Linked DNA regions of Homo sapiens: region 1 is linked to region 2. The links come from fine-mapping of genetic effects on gene expression. Tissue or cell type: neutrophils. Region 2 holds a variant in brackets; the other region holds the start of a gene. All regions are shown on one strand. Distances are between the middles of the regions.

What was found. PIP is the estimated chance that this variant, and not a neighbour inherited with it, causes the effect.
Region 1: it holds the start of TP53I3, and the variant in region 2 is fine-mapped to the expression of TP53I3 in neutrophils (BLUEPRINT, PIP 0.95).

What each region holds. Positions count from the first base shown.
Region 1 is chr2:24,081,673-24,089,769 of GRCh38, forward strand. TP53I3 (tumor protein p53 inducible protein 3) reads right to left here and starts at 3,162. Exons shown (of 5, transcript NM_004881.5): 1 at 2,517-3,162; 2 at 1,213-1,480. The coding sequence starts at 2,654. It also overlaps a transcript of FAM228B not described here. RefSeq lists enhancers at 874-1,804, 2,400-2,499, 2,650-2,699, 3,447-3,947 and a silencer at 2,710-2,889.
Region 2 is chr2:23,988,213-23,996,317 of GRCh38, forward strand. The region is part of intron 6 of UBXN2A (UBX domain protein 2A); the gene reads left to right. Among named protein-coding and RNA genes, the nearest start is that of MFSD2B, 18 kb to the right of the region's middle. The variant A/G (reference allele first, on the strand shown) is at 4,623.

The sequences.
Region 1 (8,097 bases), 93 kb after region 2:
GGTCTCACCTTGATACTGTTTTTTTTTTTTTTTTGAGACGGAGTCTCACTCTGTCACCCAGGCTGGAGTGCAGTGGCGCAATCTTGGCTCACTGCAAGCTCTGCCCCACCCCCCCTGCGTTCATGCCATTCTCTTGCCTCAGCTTCCTGAGTAGCTGGGACTACAGGTGCCCACCACCACGCCCAGCTAATTTTTTGTATTTTTAGTAGAGATGAAGTTTCACCGTGTTAGCCAGGATGGTCTCGATCTCCTGACCTCATGATCCACCCACCTCAGCCGCCCAAAGTGCTGGGATTACAGGCGTGAGCCACCACGCCCAGCCTACTCTTTCTTTTTCTTTGAGACAGAGTCTCACTCTACTGCCCAGGCTGGAGTGCAGTGGCATGATCATGGCTCACTGCAGCCTTGACCTTCCTGGGCTCAGGTGATCCTCCCAACTCAGCCTCCTGAGTAACTGAGACAACAGGCATGCACCATCATGCCTGGTTAATTTTTGTATTTTTTGTAGAAACAGGGTTTCGCCATGTTGCCCAGGCTGATCTTGAACTCCTGGGCTCGTGATCTGTCTTCCAAAGTGCTACGATTATAGGTGTGAGCCACCTTGCCTGGCTGATACTCTTTCTTAGGCCACCTTGGCATGCCTTATGTCCTTCACAAGTCTACCCACCCTTCAAAGCCTTCCAAAAAGCCTTCTGACTACCCTTGTCCACACCATCTTTACTCATCTCCAGCTTCTATCATAGACAGGGCTATCCTTCTAAACTCTATGGTCATCTGATCTTATGCATATGTTGCCTTCTCAGTTACACTGCACTGTCTAAAGGCAAGGACCAAGTCTTCTTAGATTCCCTTATGTGAGTTCTTGACTGGCCTCTGTGGGATTGAGGAGGAATAAATGAGTCAATTGGTCCCTTCTGTTGCACTGGGACCCCAGAGAGAAGCTCAGTATGATTCTAAGAAGCTGGGACTTCTGCTGGGCGTCCGGTGTTAACATGTACATAGGCCTCCTATCTAGTGTTATCCAGACCCTCTATCTGCTAACCATGATTCTCAGCCTCAACATTAAACCCTTCTAACATGGTTTGAGGACCTGACAATACAGGTGATACAGGAAGGCCTGGGAGTGCCCTGGGGGATTGCTGGGATTCAAGTTGGCTGATTTATGAAGGTGTTGAGCCACATTGTGTGGAGTGAGCATGGAGGCCTCCTCACCCACAAGATGTAACAGCTGGAAGGCGGTGAGCCAGGCCTCTGGGATGGCTGCAGCCTGGGTCAGGGTCAATCCCTCTGGGATAGGCATGAGGAGCCCTTCGGGGACAGTGACGTACTGAGCCTGGCCCCCACCGGGGAGCAGAGCCATGGCTGTGTCCCCGATCTTCCAGTGTCCCTGGCAGCCAGGCCCCAGCTCTGCCACATGTCCAGATGCCTCAAGTCCCAAAATGTTGCTGGCTCCTGGAGGTGGGTCATACTGGCCTTGTCTCTGCAGAGAAAGAAGTGCACTAAGTGGTGAGCATGATCAGAAATCTGTATGTCACTACCCCTGGCCCCCCTTCCAAGATCCCCTCTTTTTTTTTTCAAAAATAAATTTCAGAATGAAGTCAGGTTTTTGTAAGTAAGGAGAAGAAAAAGGAGAGGCCATTAGTTTTATGCAAATAAACTGGAGGTCACATGATCAGTGGATGTTATAACTGGTAGAGTCCTTAGCTATTTACCTCATCTGAACCCCTTGCTTTACAGATGGAGAAACTGAGTCCCAGACGGGAAATAATAGTAGTGGGATTAGGAACCTTGACGATGGTTCCCATGCATCAAGCGCTAGGCTCTGTGCTCACTCACCCCAGTCCTCAGAAGCTGTAGAGCAGAGGGACTTAACCAGGAGTGTGTGGCAGAACCACCTGAGGAGTATTTCAAAGTACACGTGCCTGGGCCCCCATCACGTTTCTTTTGTGCCCCGGGGGATTCTGATGCACATTTCTGAATGACCCCAACCAATGCAGCTGGCCCAGGTCAGTAAATCAGCATCAGACAGAAGAAAATTCTTAAGAGTACTGCCCGCTGTCAGCTCCGGGACTCTCAGAGTGGAAAGAGTTAAGAGGTCTTTGGAGCCACAAAGACCTCAGCTTGAATCCCAGCTCTTCTGATTGCTAGTGTCACGGCCTTGGGCGTACTGCTTAACCTCACTGAACTTCAGTTTCCTTATCTGTAGAATTAAGATGGCGAACAGGGTAGCCTGGGGAGTAAGTGTGCCCACACCCCACAACAATGTTAGTTCCGCCCTCATCTGGAGGCCTGAGTGGCTATGGATTAGCTCGGGGTGGATTCTGCTTTACAAGTACTCCCCCTTGTTTTGCATGAACAAAGAGGGCGCCCTGGGTTTAGGTCTGGGAAGCCCCAGCGCAGCTGCCTGCTGGGTGTGGAGCGGTGCACGCCTTCACGTCTGGTCAATGTCCACTGAGTGCTGTTGAGAGGGAGGCTCTGGAGTCCCGCCCGCCCCGGCGCGGCTGAGCCCTGGGTACCTGCATTAAGTCCGCCCGGTTCAGGGCGCTGGCCGCCACCTTCAGGAGGACTTCACCCTCCCCCGGGCTCGGCTTGGCCACCTCCTTCACGTAGAGGTTTTCCGGTCCTCCCGGCTTGTCAAAGTGCACGGCTAACATATTGTCTGAGGACACAGGGCAGGGCAGGGCAGGACAGGACAGGGCAGGGCAGGGCAGGACAGGACAGGGCAGGGCAGGACAGGACAGGGCAGGGGCCGCTGTATCCTCGCGGAGCAGCCCAGCCTCAGGCTGGCACCGCAGCGCCCCCTGCCGGCCAGCGCCTCGCTGCCCTGGTCTGCCGCGGACCCGGCCTCCGCCCCGAGCTCCTGCCTGGGAAGTCCTCGGCCGCCTCCAGACCGATCCCACCCGGAACACAGATGGGAACGGCGGGAAGTGGGATGGCGGTACAGGGCTGGATGCGGCAGAGCAGGACAACGCCGAAGAGGATCAGGCAAATCACACTCCCTCTGAGTTGGAAGCCCCCAGCCCGACCCGGGTCCCCGGCGCCCGTATGAGTTACTTACTCCTGGCCCGGCTCCCCTCCCATGCACCAGGCGGCGCCGAGTGGTTCTGGCTCCTGCGGGTCCCGGTGACAAAGCCCGAGCCCCAGAGCCCCAGGACTGCCTCTGCCTCCACCGGAATGGACGGCTGGACCTGGGGTAGCCGGAGGGGTGGGGCTAAGCAGAACCACCCTCCCCCTCTTTCCTTTCCTCCTTCCCCCTTTAAAACGCAAAGTTAGAAGCAAGCAAATCAGATTTTCTTGTCCTTTTAGCCTCTGGAAAAGAGTCTTTCTCTCAGCTTGACAGAAAGTGCGATTCTAGCTCTCACTTCAAGGAGAGGAAACTTCCTTCTCTCTAGGGAACGAGACCCAACCTCTTGGCGGGCGGATTGGTCCATTTTCCAGGCATGGCCAGGCTTTTGGCACATTTATGTAACAGGCTGGCATCCCGCCCATCTTGAGCATGGGTGGGCAAGCTGGGTGCTGCTAAGAGAAGAGAAAGGAGCCGTTGGGAGTGGGGGTGGGGAAGGAAGGCAAAACGCAGTCCTGGGATCCTTATCACTCGCCTCCTCCTGACAGTCCTGGGGGAGAGGTTCAGCCCCAGGAGAAGGATGCTGGCGATTGGGTAAAAGCTGTATCCGTAAGCTACATGAAGGTTTCTCAATCTCGGCGCTATTGACATTTTGGACTAGCTAGTTCGTTATTGTAGGAGATCGTCCTGTGCATCGTAGGATGTTTAGCAGCATCCCTGGCCTCCCCCCACTACATATCCGTAGCACTCCTTGTAAATTCCTGTTTTAGTAAGAACCTCCCATCCTTGACATCTGATCACCCTCAATATCTCATCCTCCACCATCCCCCAAGTGATATCCGACCACCCTGGCCTGTCTTCAGTGAGAATCCTGTTAGGTCAGTTTAGATAGAATCCCCCTTACCCCTGATGCCTCTTACCAATTTTCCATCCACTGACCCCCTACACTGCTCCTTGGCTATACATTCCCACTTGTCCGTGATGCATTCAGAGTTGATCCCAACCTGTCTCCTCCACTGCAAGAACTCATTGCAGTGGTCCCTAAACCTGTAGCGATGGTGCTAAATAAAGTCTTCCTTAATGTGCTTTAACAAGTATCATTGAATAATTATTTCTTTAACACAACAGAGCAAAAGCCTATAGAGATGGAAATAATAAAATGATGGGACTTAAGGAAAAATTCAGGAGACCCTGCTATGAGAATAACAGGAATTTTAGGCCGGGCGCGGTGGCTCACGCCTGTAATCCCAGAACTTTGGGAGGCCAAGGCGGGCGGATCACGAGGTCAGGAGATCGAGACCATCCTGGCTAACACGGTGAAACCCCGTCTCTACTAAAAATACAAAAAATTAGCCGGGCGTGGTGGCGGGCGCCTGTAGTCCCAGCTATTCGGGAGGCTGAGGCAGGAGAATGGCGTGAACCCGGGAGGGGGAGCTTGCAGTGAGCCGAGATCGCACCACTGCACTCCAGCCTGGACGACAGAGTGAGACTCCGTCTCAAAAAAAAAAAAAAAAAAGGAATTTTAGAAGGAGGAAGAGGAATGGATGAAGAAGATTCAATAGTTAACCAAATAAAAGAATACAGTTTTCCTAAATTCTACCAGATTATACGGATTGAAAACATTCACTAAAGGATGGATTCATAAGAACAAAAATGCATGCCTATATTTTATAAAATTTCAGGTTCTAACAAGTGTGGAAAGAATAAGTTACTCACAATTGGTTAAAAAAAATGGCTTCCTTCTCTCCCTCCCTCCCTCCTTCCTTCCTTCCCTCCTTCCCCACCCCCTCTTTCTCTCTCTCTCTTTTTTGTAGTGTAGGGGTCTCATTATGTTGCCCAGGCTGGTCTCAAACTCCTGGACTCAAGCAATCCTCCTGCCTCAGCCTCCCAAAGTGCTAGGATTACAAGTATGAGCCACTGTGCCCAGCAAGTTTCTATCTGCAATCTGGAAGCTAGAAGAGAGTAGACTAGCGTCTATTGACTAGAAGAAAAGCACTGTAACTCAATATACCCCATTAAGATATAATTCACTTGTTAGGGCAAAAAACATGTCTGAGGATGTATAAGGATTCAGAGACACATCATCCGGATACACATCTGTCCAAAATCGAGGAAAGGTTTGAACCAAATAAATATCCTAGAACAGAGACAGATGGAAAGGAAATAGTTGTAAATAACAAACTTTGCAAAAATCGACACTAAAACTGATTGGATTAAGAAAATGGAATGGATTAAGATAGATGAGGAATGTGTAATGTAAGTGCTAAATAAGAACTTTTAAGATGCAAGGAGTAACTTTAAAAAAAATCTAATAATACCAACCACTAAGTATACTAAAGTATCCCAGTAAAACTAGTAGTTGAAAGTGCCTAAGATTTTATCTTAGTGAGCCCTTGGTCGATGTAATCTTGCAGTGTGTAATAAGAAATATATATTTTTGGTCTTTGTCCTGGGTTCCTACAATAGCACTCCTAAAACCTTTGTTATTTGCTGAATAAACATCTCTTTCTTTCTTTTGTTTTTAACTAGATATACGGTCTTGCTACGTTGCCCAGGCTGATCATGAACTCCTGGACTCAAGCAATTCTCCCACCTCAGCCTGTAAAGTACTGGAATTATAGGCATGAGCCACTCTGCCTGGCCAATAAGTATCTTTTATTATATTTTGTTCTCCTGCAGAGCTCCTAAAACCCTTGGAATTTCGTATGTGATAGAAGTGACTTTTTATATTAATAACAAACCCTTATAAGCACACTCGAGTTTATGCTAATATGACTTAGGGTGGGGGCCCTAGATAGCTTCAGGATGAGCTGGTCACCAGAAAGACCCTGGGAAGGGGAAGCAGGGACTGGAGATTACACGCTATAAGAATTCTTTTTTGTTGTTGTTGTTGAAACTGAGTCTCACTCTGTTGCCCAGGCTGGAGTGCAGTGGCCTGACCTCAGTTCACTGCAACCTCCACCTCCTAGGTTCAAGCGATTCTCCTGCCTCAGCCTCCCGAGTAGCTGGGACTACAGGTGTGAGCCACCACACCAGGGTAATTTTTTTTTTTTTTTTTTTTTTGAGACAGAGTCTCACTCTGTCACCCAGGCGATCTCGGCTCCCTGCAATCCTCTCAAGTAGCTGGGACTATAGATGCACGCTGCCACGCCCAGCTAATTTTTTGTATTTTAGTAGAGACAGGGTTTCACCAGCCCAGGGTTTTGCAACAGTCCAGGCTGGTCGCAAACTCCTGAGCTTAGGCAATCCACCTGCCTCGGCCTTCCAAAGTGCTGGGATTACAGGCGTGAGCCACTGGGTCCGGCCCATTTTTGTGGTTTTAGTAGAAATGGGATTTCTCCATGTTGGCCAGGCTGGTCTTGAACTCCTTACCTCAGGTTATCCATTTGCCTAGGCCTCCAAAAGTGCTGGGATTAGAGGTGTGAGCCACTGCGCCTGGCCCTAAAAACTCTTGAACAAAGAAATGTGGTGAGCTTCCCAGCTGGTGAACACATCCACCATGGGAAGATGGTGTGGTGTACCCCAACTCCATGGGGACAGAGACTCCTGCACTTGGGATCCTTCTGGACCTCATTCTACATACCTCTTCACCTGGCTGTTCATCCCTTTATTATATATATATATCTTTTTTTGAGGCAGAGTCTGGCTCTGTCGCCTAGGCTGGAATGCAGTGGGGTGATCTCGGCTCACTGCAATCTCTGTCTCCTGGGTTTACGTGATTCTCCTGCCTCAGCCTCCCAAGTAGCTGGGATTACAGGCATGCACCACCAAGCCCGGCTAATTTTTGCATATTTAGTAGAGACAGGGTTTCGCCATGTTGGCCAGGCTGGTCTTGAACTTTTGGGCTCAAGAGATCCACCTGCTTCGGCCTCCCAAAGTGTTGCGATTACAGGCGTGAGCCACCGCGCCCGGCCTATAATATTCTTTATCATAAACTAGTAAACGTAAGTGTTTCCCTGAGTTTTATGAAGGATTCTAGCAAATTATCAAATCCAAGGAGGGAGTCATGAGAATCCCTGATTTATACAGCCAGTTGGTCAGAAGTGTAGGAGGCTTGGATTTGCAGTTGGCATCTTTAATGGGGGCAACCTTGCGGGACTGAGCCCTTAATCTGTGGGATCTGACACTAACTCCAGGTAGAGAGTGTCAGAATTGAATTGTGGAACACCCAGCCTATGTCAGAGAATTGATTGATGTGGGAATAAAACCTGCATATCTAGTGTCAGAAACGAAGTGTTCTGTGTGAGTGTAGAAACAGTGTGGTTTCCCAGATATGGGGAAATAGATTATATTTAGTAGAAATGTATCCAATTATGAAAGTTGAGAAATGGGCTGGGTGCTGTGGCTCATACCTATAATCCCAGCACTTTGGGAGGCTGAGAGGGGTGGATCACTTGAGGTCAGGAGTTCAAGGCCAGCCTGGCCAGCATGATGAAACCCCATCTCTACTAAAAATGCAAAAATTAGCTGGGTGTGGTGGTGGTTGCCTGTAGTCCCAGCTTGTTCTTTATAAAAACCAGTAACATGAATGAAATGTATTGTGAGTTACAGCTGGGAAACAAGAAATAGCCAAGGTCTGAAAGACTGGGAATGAGAAAGGAGATACAACCACAGATATAGGAGTGATTAAAACAAAAATAAATTAAATTATGTGAAATTCTACAGCAACAAGTAGTAAAATCTAGAAAAAAAAAGGAAGATTTTTTTAGCAAAATTACTCCATTCTACCCAATGGGTAGAGTATTTTCGCCTCATTCTGTTGATGTTGGGTTTGGCCCTGTCTCTTACTTTGGTCAATGATGAGTGAGAAAGGCATGGTCAGTTTCCATCAGTCCCCTTACCTTCCTGCCACCCACAGATAGCCTCTATTTCAGCTTGTCCCTGAGTGAGAAATACTCAGGGTAGCCCTGAATCCAACCTATTGTCTTGGGACCAGCCTAGCAGAGTCACAACCGAGGAAGAAATAAACATTTGTTTTTGTAAGCTGTTGTTGTTGTAAGCTGTTAAGATTTGGGGATAGTTTATTTTTGCAG
Region 2 (8,105 bases):
GGTATAGATTATCTGTAAACAAGGAACTTCTCCCACATAACCACAATACAGCCATTTAAATCAGGAAACTTAACCTTAATACGCTTGTATCGACTAATAGACCCTAATTCAGGGTTTTCCATTTTATCTAATACCTTCCTTTATAGCAAAAGGCCATTCAGAATTACACATTGCACTTAGTTGTCGTATCTCAGTTTGAAATAGTTCCTTGTCTTCCTTTGATTTTTATAACCTTGACTTTTTAAAATATTACAAGCCAATTTGTTTTGTTTGATGCTTCCTCATGATTATATTTAGGTCACTAATTTTGGCAGGGGTGTGACAGAACTAATGCTTTGTACCTCTCATTGTATTCCAACAGGTGGCATCATTTACATTTGTCCCATTATGATGATGTTAAATTTGACACTCGATTAAAGTGGTGTCTACCAGAGTCCTTTACTGTAAAGTTACTCATTTTCCCTTTGTAATTAATCTGTATTTAGTGGGAAGGACTTTGAAATAGGATACTTATGTTGCTCACAAGACCTCAGATTGATTGATTGATTGATTTGTGTCTATACCTACTCATAGTTTGCTATTTTATTCAATAGTTTATGAACTCTTACCATCATTATTTATTTTGATATGCACATTGTCTCAGGTACAGTTTGTGAGACGTCCTTTAAACTGATTCCTGTGTTATTTTGAAATGGTCCCATAATTCTTGAACATTTCCTTGTTTTCAGCACAAAATTTTTTTTCAAGTTCATTCTACGCTTTTCCAGGAATCCCTAGTTCTTTTTAGTGGACAGCGGTATTGACAATCCAGGATCTGGGTACTAGATATGCTTATTGCTTATCAGGATACCACTGCTTCCAGGCCCTCTGTTTGAAAAGAATTGTTTGTGTGCACACGCACACACACACACGCCAAAAAGAAAACTATTTCAAAAATTGAAGAGGGGATACTTCCAGACTCATTCTATGAGGCCAGCATTACCCTGATACCAAAATCAACAAAGACACACACAAAAAACCTATACATATACATATGTGTGTGTGTGTGTGTGTATGTATATATATGCACTTAAGTTTATATCTGTATTTATTCCTTTTTTTTTTTTTTTGAGACAGGGTCTCACTCTGTCTCCCAGGTTGGAGTGTAGTGGTATAATTACAGATCACTGCAGCCTCCACCTCCCCAGACTCAGGTGATCCTCCTCAGTTTTTATACTTTTAATAGAGAGGGGGTTTCACCCTGTTGCCTAGGCTGGTCTCAAACTCCTGGACTCAAGCGATCCACCTGCCTCGGCCTCCCAAAGTGCTAGGATTACAGGCATGAGCCACCACACCCGGCCTTATTTCTATATTTTTATATATCAAAAACCGTGAATCCACGTAGATACATCCACTTTCAGTCTGGTAGGGCCAGGCGTGGTGGCTCATACCTGTAATCCCAGCACTTTGGGAGGCCAAGGCGGGCAGATCACTGGAGCCTAGCAGTTCAAAACCAGTCTGGGCAACATGGTGAAACTCTATCTCTACAAAAAACACAAAAAGTTGCCAGACGTGGTGGCACTCACCTGTGGTCTCAGATACTCGGGAGGCTGAAGTAGGAGGATCACCTGTACCCTGGGGAGGTTGAGGCTGCAATAAGCTGTGATTGCACCACTGCATTCCAGCCTGGGCAATAGAACCAGACCTTGTCTCAAAAAATATCTATATAAGGATTGTTCTAATTTTCTCCTTTCCATATTTGTAACTAACTTCTACAGTGCAAGGCCTGGCTCCAGTTATAATTAACACATTTATTTAATCAGTTTTCCTATATGTGACCAATGTCCTTTTTCCACTGCTGCCTCCTACCCCACATGTAAGCCTTCCTCACACTGCTTGGGCTTTGACTCTCCTTGTTGAATTCCAATATGGATTCCCTCCTCTTCCTGCTAGGCTCTCTGACACATCATCACCCCAGGGCACCCCTTCACTGGAATGCCCTCTCACACTGCTTGACTTGAGGACTCTATGCCAGTGACCTCCTCTGCTTGGTAGACTGACATTCTGGGCTGCCTCTAAGATGCTCTCCTCACCACTGTCTGGTTCTGACACACTGCAGTCAACTGCTCTTCCATATGAATGCTTTTTTACTCTGCTTGGGACAACCTGCTCTGTTGTGATTTTTACTGGGCAATAGCTGACTGATTCAGCCATGTAAACTTGGACTGTTACCCATAAAGGTAGACTGAATAATTATTTTTATAATGGAAGACAGTAATCAAAAAATATTTGCAGCTGGGCGTGGTGGCTCAGGCCTGAAATCCCAGCACTTTGGGAGGCCGGGGGGGCGGGGGGGCGGATCACTTGAGGTCGGAAGTTCAAGACCAACCTGGCCAACATGGTGAAACCCCATCTCCACAAAAAATACAAAAATTAGCTGAGTGTGGTGGCCCACTCCTGTAATCCCAGCTACTTGGGAGGCTGAAGCAGGAGAATGGCTTGAACCCAGGAGGTGGAGGTTGCAGTGAGCTGAAATCACACCACTGCACTCCAGCCTGGGTGACAGAGTGAGACTCCATCTCAAAAAAAAAAAAAAAGTATTTGCTATGGCTGCACACATAAACATGGATGAGTCCCAAAAACATAATGTAGAGATAAAGCTATAGAACACATACACTATGATTCCATTCATGTCAGGTTTAAAAAAGTAAAACTGTCCTTAAAAGCTACTAAGCCATGACTACTCTTCTCCTACCCACCAGCTTGGATATTTTTCCTCACCCCACTTGGCCTCTGACATCCTACACTAGACAGCTCTTATATGGGCCACCACAACTCCCAGCATTTCTGAAATAGATGCCTCCCATGTTCTGTCCTACTAATGGCTTGGTGGCTTTTGGACTGAATCATTAAAAAATTGTGTTTTTCTTCCGTTTTTTCTGCTTATTTTATTAGTTACCAAGAAAGTTGTGCTAAAATCTCCAACTATGATTATGGATTTGTCTATTTCTTATTTACTTCTGTCAATGTTTGCTTTATATATTTTAAAGTTATATAATTGGGTCCAGCAGAGATGAAATTGTGTTTTTCTGATTAATTGACTTTGTTGGGGAGAAAAGATTTTCTTCGCCCATTGCCTAGATTCATGGCTGAGACCCCTTTAACAAAAGACAGATTAACAAAAGAAATGCATGTGATTTTATATTTTATTTTATACACACACACACACACACACACACATATACATATATATATATTATATTTTTTTCTGTCTTTTTTGTTTTGTTTTGTTTTTGAGATGGAGTCTCTCTCTGTTGCCTAGGCTGGAGTGCAGTGGTGTGATCTCGGCTCACTGCAACTTCTGCCTCCCAGGTTCAAGCAATTCTCCCTGCCCCAGACTCCTGAGTAACTGGGATCACAGGCGCCTATCACCACACCTGGCTAATTTTTTTTGTATTTTTAGTAGAGAAAGGGTTTGCCATGTTGGCCAGTCTGGTCTCGAACTGCTGATCTCAGGTGGTCCGCTCACCTTGGCCTCCCAAAGTGCTGGGATTACAGGCGTGAGCCACAGTGCCCGGCCTTTTTTGTTTTTTGTTTGTTTGTTTTGTTTTGTTTTTTTGAGACAGTCTCAACTCTGTTGCCTAGGCTGGAGTGCAGTGGCATGATCTTGGCTCATTGAAACCTCTGCCTCCTGGGTTCAAGCAATTCTCGTCCCTCAGCCTCCCAAGTAGCTGGGATTATAGGCACCTGCCACCACGCCTGGCTAATTTTTGGGGTTTTTTGTTTTGTTTTGTTTTTTGAGATGGAGTCTTGCTCTGTCGCCAGGCTGGAATGCAGTGGCGCAATCTCAGCTCACTGCAACCTCCGCCTCCCTGGTTCATGCGATTCTCCTGCCTCAGCCTCCCGAGTAGCTGGGACTACAGGTGTGTGCCACCATGCCCAGCTAATTTTTGTATTTTTAGTAGAGATGGGGTTTCACCATGTTGGCCAGGCTGGTCTTGATCTCCTGACCTCATGATCCTCCTGCCTCGGCCTCCCAAAGTGCTGGGATTACAGGCATGAGCCACCGCGCCCAGCCTAATTTTGGTATTTTTAGTAGAGACAGGGTTTCGCCATGTTGGCCAGGCTGGTCTTGAACTCCTGGCCTAAGTTTGATGAGGAAGTGGATAGTTTGTGGAGAAGTATGATTGGAGGGCAAAAGGGGTATGATCTAATGGTAATAAATTAAGGGGAACTTAGCTTAGCCTGTTCGTTCAGATTCTTCGTGGCATCTCTGCATCTTCAAGGATAAGGTTGTTCCTTTCCTCTGGGTATACGAACAATACCTCGGAAAGGAAGGTTTTATGACCTACTTCAGAGGAAGGACAGATAATTTCTTTTTTGGTCTGCTTTGAGGGGAGAAGGGCAAGGGGAGAATGAGACTGATCTACCTGTTTCTGCTGTTTCCTCAAATGCCAAGGTGCCATATTTTAGGGTAGCATATCTTGAACCCTGTCAACCTTTTTAGCACTGTCACATGTCTCTCTCAATCCTTGGTAATGCTTTTTGTGTTAAATCTACTCTGCCTGATATTAATATGGTCATAACAGCTTCCTTCTAATTAGTATTTGCCTGGTATATTTTTCTACTTACTTTTAATTTCA[A/G]CGTATCTGTATATATTTATCTGTGTGTGTATTTAAAACTATCTCTTGTAAATAGTTGAGTTTTGTTTTTAAATCTAGGCTAACAGTATTAGTTTCTGGTTTTGTGGGGTTTTTTCCTCCTGTTTTACTCTGCAAGGAGGTTTCTGTTTTGTGGATTTCTTTAGCTACCATCTACCTGGTGCTTTCTATGTGTTTGGCTCTCTTGAAGGCATTTCACTTTTATTTCTGTCAAAACCATTCTAGACAGCTGGAATCACACAACTGATTATCATAATAATAGAAGAAGCACAAGTTTGAAATTGTGTCCTGGAATGTTCTTTTGTGACCTAAATTCCTTCCAAATGAAGAGGAGAGCAAACTAAAGATGTAGAAATGGGAATGGGGATTTGTTATTCTGGCCCAAGCTTATTTGTTTATCTTCAGGGAAATAAATTTTAATCTTGACTTGTTTATCTAGGTGAATAACAATGAAACACGTAGCTTTTTTTCCCCCTAAATGACTGAAGCGTTTAAAAATTTTTGGCCAACAGCATTTATTTAGTAATGATTAATCAGGCTTTTTCTTTTCTGTTTTAAATATATAATATATTTTGGTAGAGACAGGGTCTCACCTGCTGGGATTATAGGCTTGAGCCACTGCCCCTGGCCAACAATTTCACTCTGTTACTCTCTTCCTTTTTGCTATTTTTGTCAACAAATATGTTACTTCTACGAACATTTTAACAACCCTCAAAATGCTATTACTTGTAAACAATATTCACTTATATATCATTTTACTTTTTCTGTTTTTTACCCAGTTTGATGTTTTAGCCTGAACAATTATGCTTAGTATCTCTTAAATTTTTTTAATTTTTTAATTTTTTTTTTTTTTCAAGACAGAGTCTTGCTCTGTCACCTGGTTGGAGCGCAGCGGAGTGATCTCAGCACACTGCGACCTCTGCCTCCCTGGTTCAAGCAATTCTCCTGTCTCAGCTTCCCAAGTAGCTGGCATTACAGGCATGCGCTACCACACCCAGCTAATTTTTGTATTTTTTTGGTAGAGACAGGGTTTCACCATGTTGGCCAGGCTGGTCTCCAACTCCTGACCTTGTGGTCCGCCTCGGCTTCCCAAAGTGCTGGGATTACAGGCGTGAGTCACCGAGCCCTGCCTTTAGTATCTCTTTAATTGCTTATCTACTAATGATGAATTCTCTTAGCTTTGATTTGAACACATCTTCATTTTTAAAGACCATTTTCACTAGGCTAGAACTGTCAGGTTTTTCTAGCACATCAGCTCTTAAGAATGCCCATATGTTGTCTTCCAGCTTCCACTCTCCTACTCAAAAATCAGCTGTCAGCCTTTTTCTTGCTCTTTTGAAAGATATTAAGTCTTTTTTCCTCTCAGTTTAAAATTTTTCTCTTTGTTCTTAGATTTTAATAGCTTGAATATGATGTGCCTAGGTGTTAGTTATCTTTGCATTATATTGCTTAGAATTTGCTGAGTTTCTTGGATCCATAGTTAAGGTTTTTTGTCAGTTTGGGGAGTTTCTTGGCCAGTATTGATGGAAATGTTCTCGTATTTTATTCTCTTTTGTCTTTGGCATTTGTGGCTTTATTTACATGTATGTTAGATGTTTTCAGTGTATCTTATATTCTTTTCTAATTTTTTTCTTCTTTTTCCTTCTGATTCAGTCTGCATATTTTCTATTTGACCTGTCTTCGAGTTCAGTAATCTGTTGTATTGGTCTGGTCTGTTAAATACATGTGTTGGAATTCTTACTTTCAATTCTACTGTCACTTGTAGACTTTTCATTTGAGTCTGTTATTTTTCAGGTGTCTGGTGAAATTCCTCATCTTTTTATTTTATCTGTTGCTTCTTCTGGATTTTAGCATACCTTATAATTCATCTGGTCATTAGACCTTGTTTATGGAAACATTGTAGACGTTTCAGATGACATCATCTTCCTCCAAAGATACCTATGCTTCTATCAGACAGATTCCTAATGGATTATGTTGATTTTATTAAGAGTTAGTTGGATTGACTGTAGACTTTACTGGGGCTGGTTGGTTATCTGTTTTGCTTTTAGAGCATGGACTTGAACCTTAGGGTCTGACCCTTAGAAGTGGTGAAAACCTGGGTGTTTACCAAGACTCCTCCACATTGGCAGAGCTTAAACTCTAGAGTCTGTGTGCCCAGCATTTTGGAGCTGCTAGAATCTCTCCTCAGTCGCTGTTTTCTGTTGGGTTCTTTGAATTCTCATTCTACTAATAGCTGAGGAGTTAGCCAATAACTTAAGAATTTGTTACGGTTTTCTGGTCACGTTTCTTTATGGGTCCCTCTGTTTCAGGATTTTGGCTTATAAATCCCAGCTTCTTGTCTCTCCTTGGTGTAGTGAAATGGCTTTTTTTTTTCCCTCTAATTCACTGCTACAAATTGGAAAGTGCCCTCAGTGAAAAAACCAGTGTAAATGTGGAGCTCACCTTGTGCATTTCCTTCCTACAGGGCTCTCAGATGATTTACATTGGTTGGTCTTCAGTGCTTTCACATAGCGCTTTTATGTTTAGACGCTCCTTGACTTATGATGTAATGTCCCAATAAGCCCATCCACGTTGAAAATGCATTTACCCAGCACTTTGGGAGGCTGAGGCGGGCGGATCACGAGGTCAGGAGATCGAGACCATCCTGGCTAACATGGTGAAACCCCGGATCTACTAAAAATACAAAAAAAATTAGCCAGGCGTGGTAGCGGGCGTCTGTAGTCCCAGCTACTCGGGAGGCTGAGGCAGGAGAATGGTGTGAACCCAGGGGGCGGAGCTTGCAGTGAGCCAAGATCACGCCACTGCACTCCAGCCTGGGCGACAGAGCAAGACTCTGTCTCAAAAAAAAAAAAGAAAAGAAAAAAAAAAGAAAATGCATTTAATACCCTGATGAACCCATTGTAAAGTTGAAAAATAGTTACGTCAAAGCATTTTAAGTCTGTATATTGTCCAGCTTTTATAGCAATATTTTTAGGAGCACTACTTCAATAAAAGCCATTTCATCAATGATCAAAACAAAATCCTCTTATTGTCTTTTTATTTTTTATTTATTTGTTTTTTTGAGATGAATTCTTGTTCTGTCACCCAATTTGGAGTGCAGTGGCTCAATCTCGGCTCACTGCAACCTGCACCACCTCCCAGGTTCGAGCAATTCTCCTGCCTCAGCCTTCCAAGTAGCTGGGATTACAGGTGTGCGTCACCACGCCTGGCTAATTTTTTTTTTTTTTTTTTTGAGTCAGAGTCTTGCTCTGTCGCCAAGGCTGGAGTGCAGTGGCATGATCTCGGCTCACTGCAACCTCTGTTTCCTGGGTTCAAGTGATTCTCCTGCCTCAGCCTCCCGAGTAGCTGGGACTACAGGCGCGTGCCACCATGCTTGGCTAATTTTTTATATTTTTAGTAGAAACAGTGTTCACCATATTGGCCAGGCTGGTCTTGAACTCCTGAACTCAGGTGATCTGTCTGCCT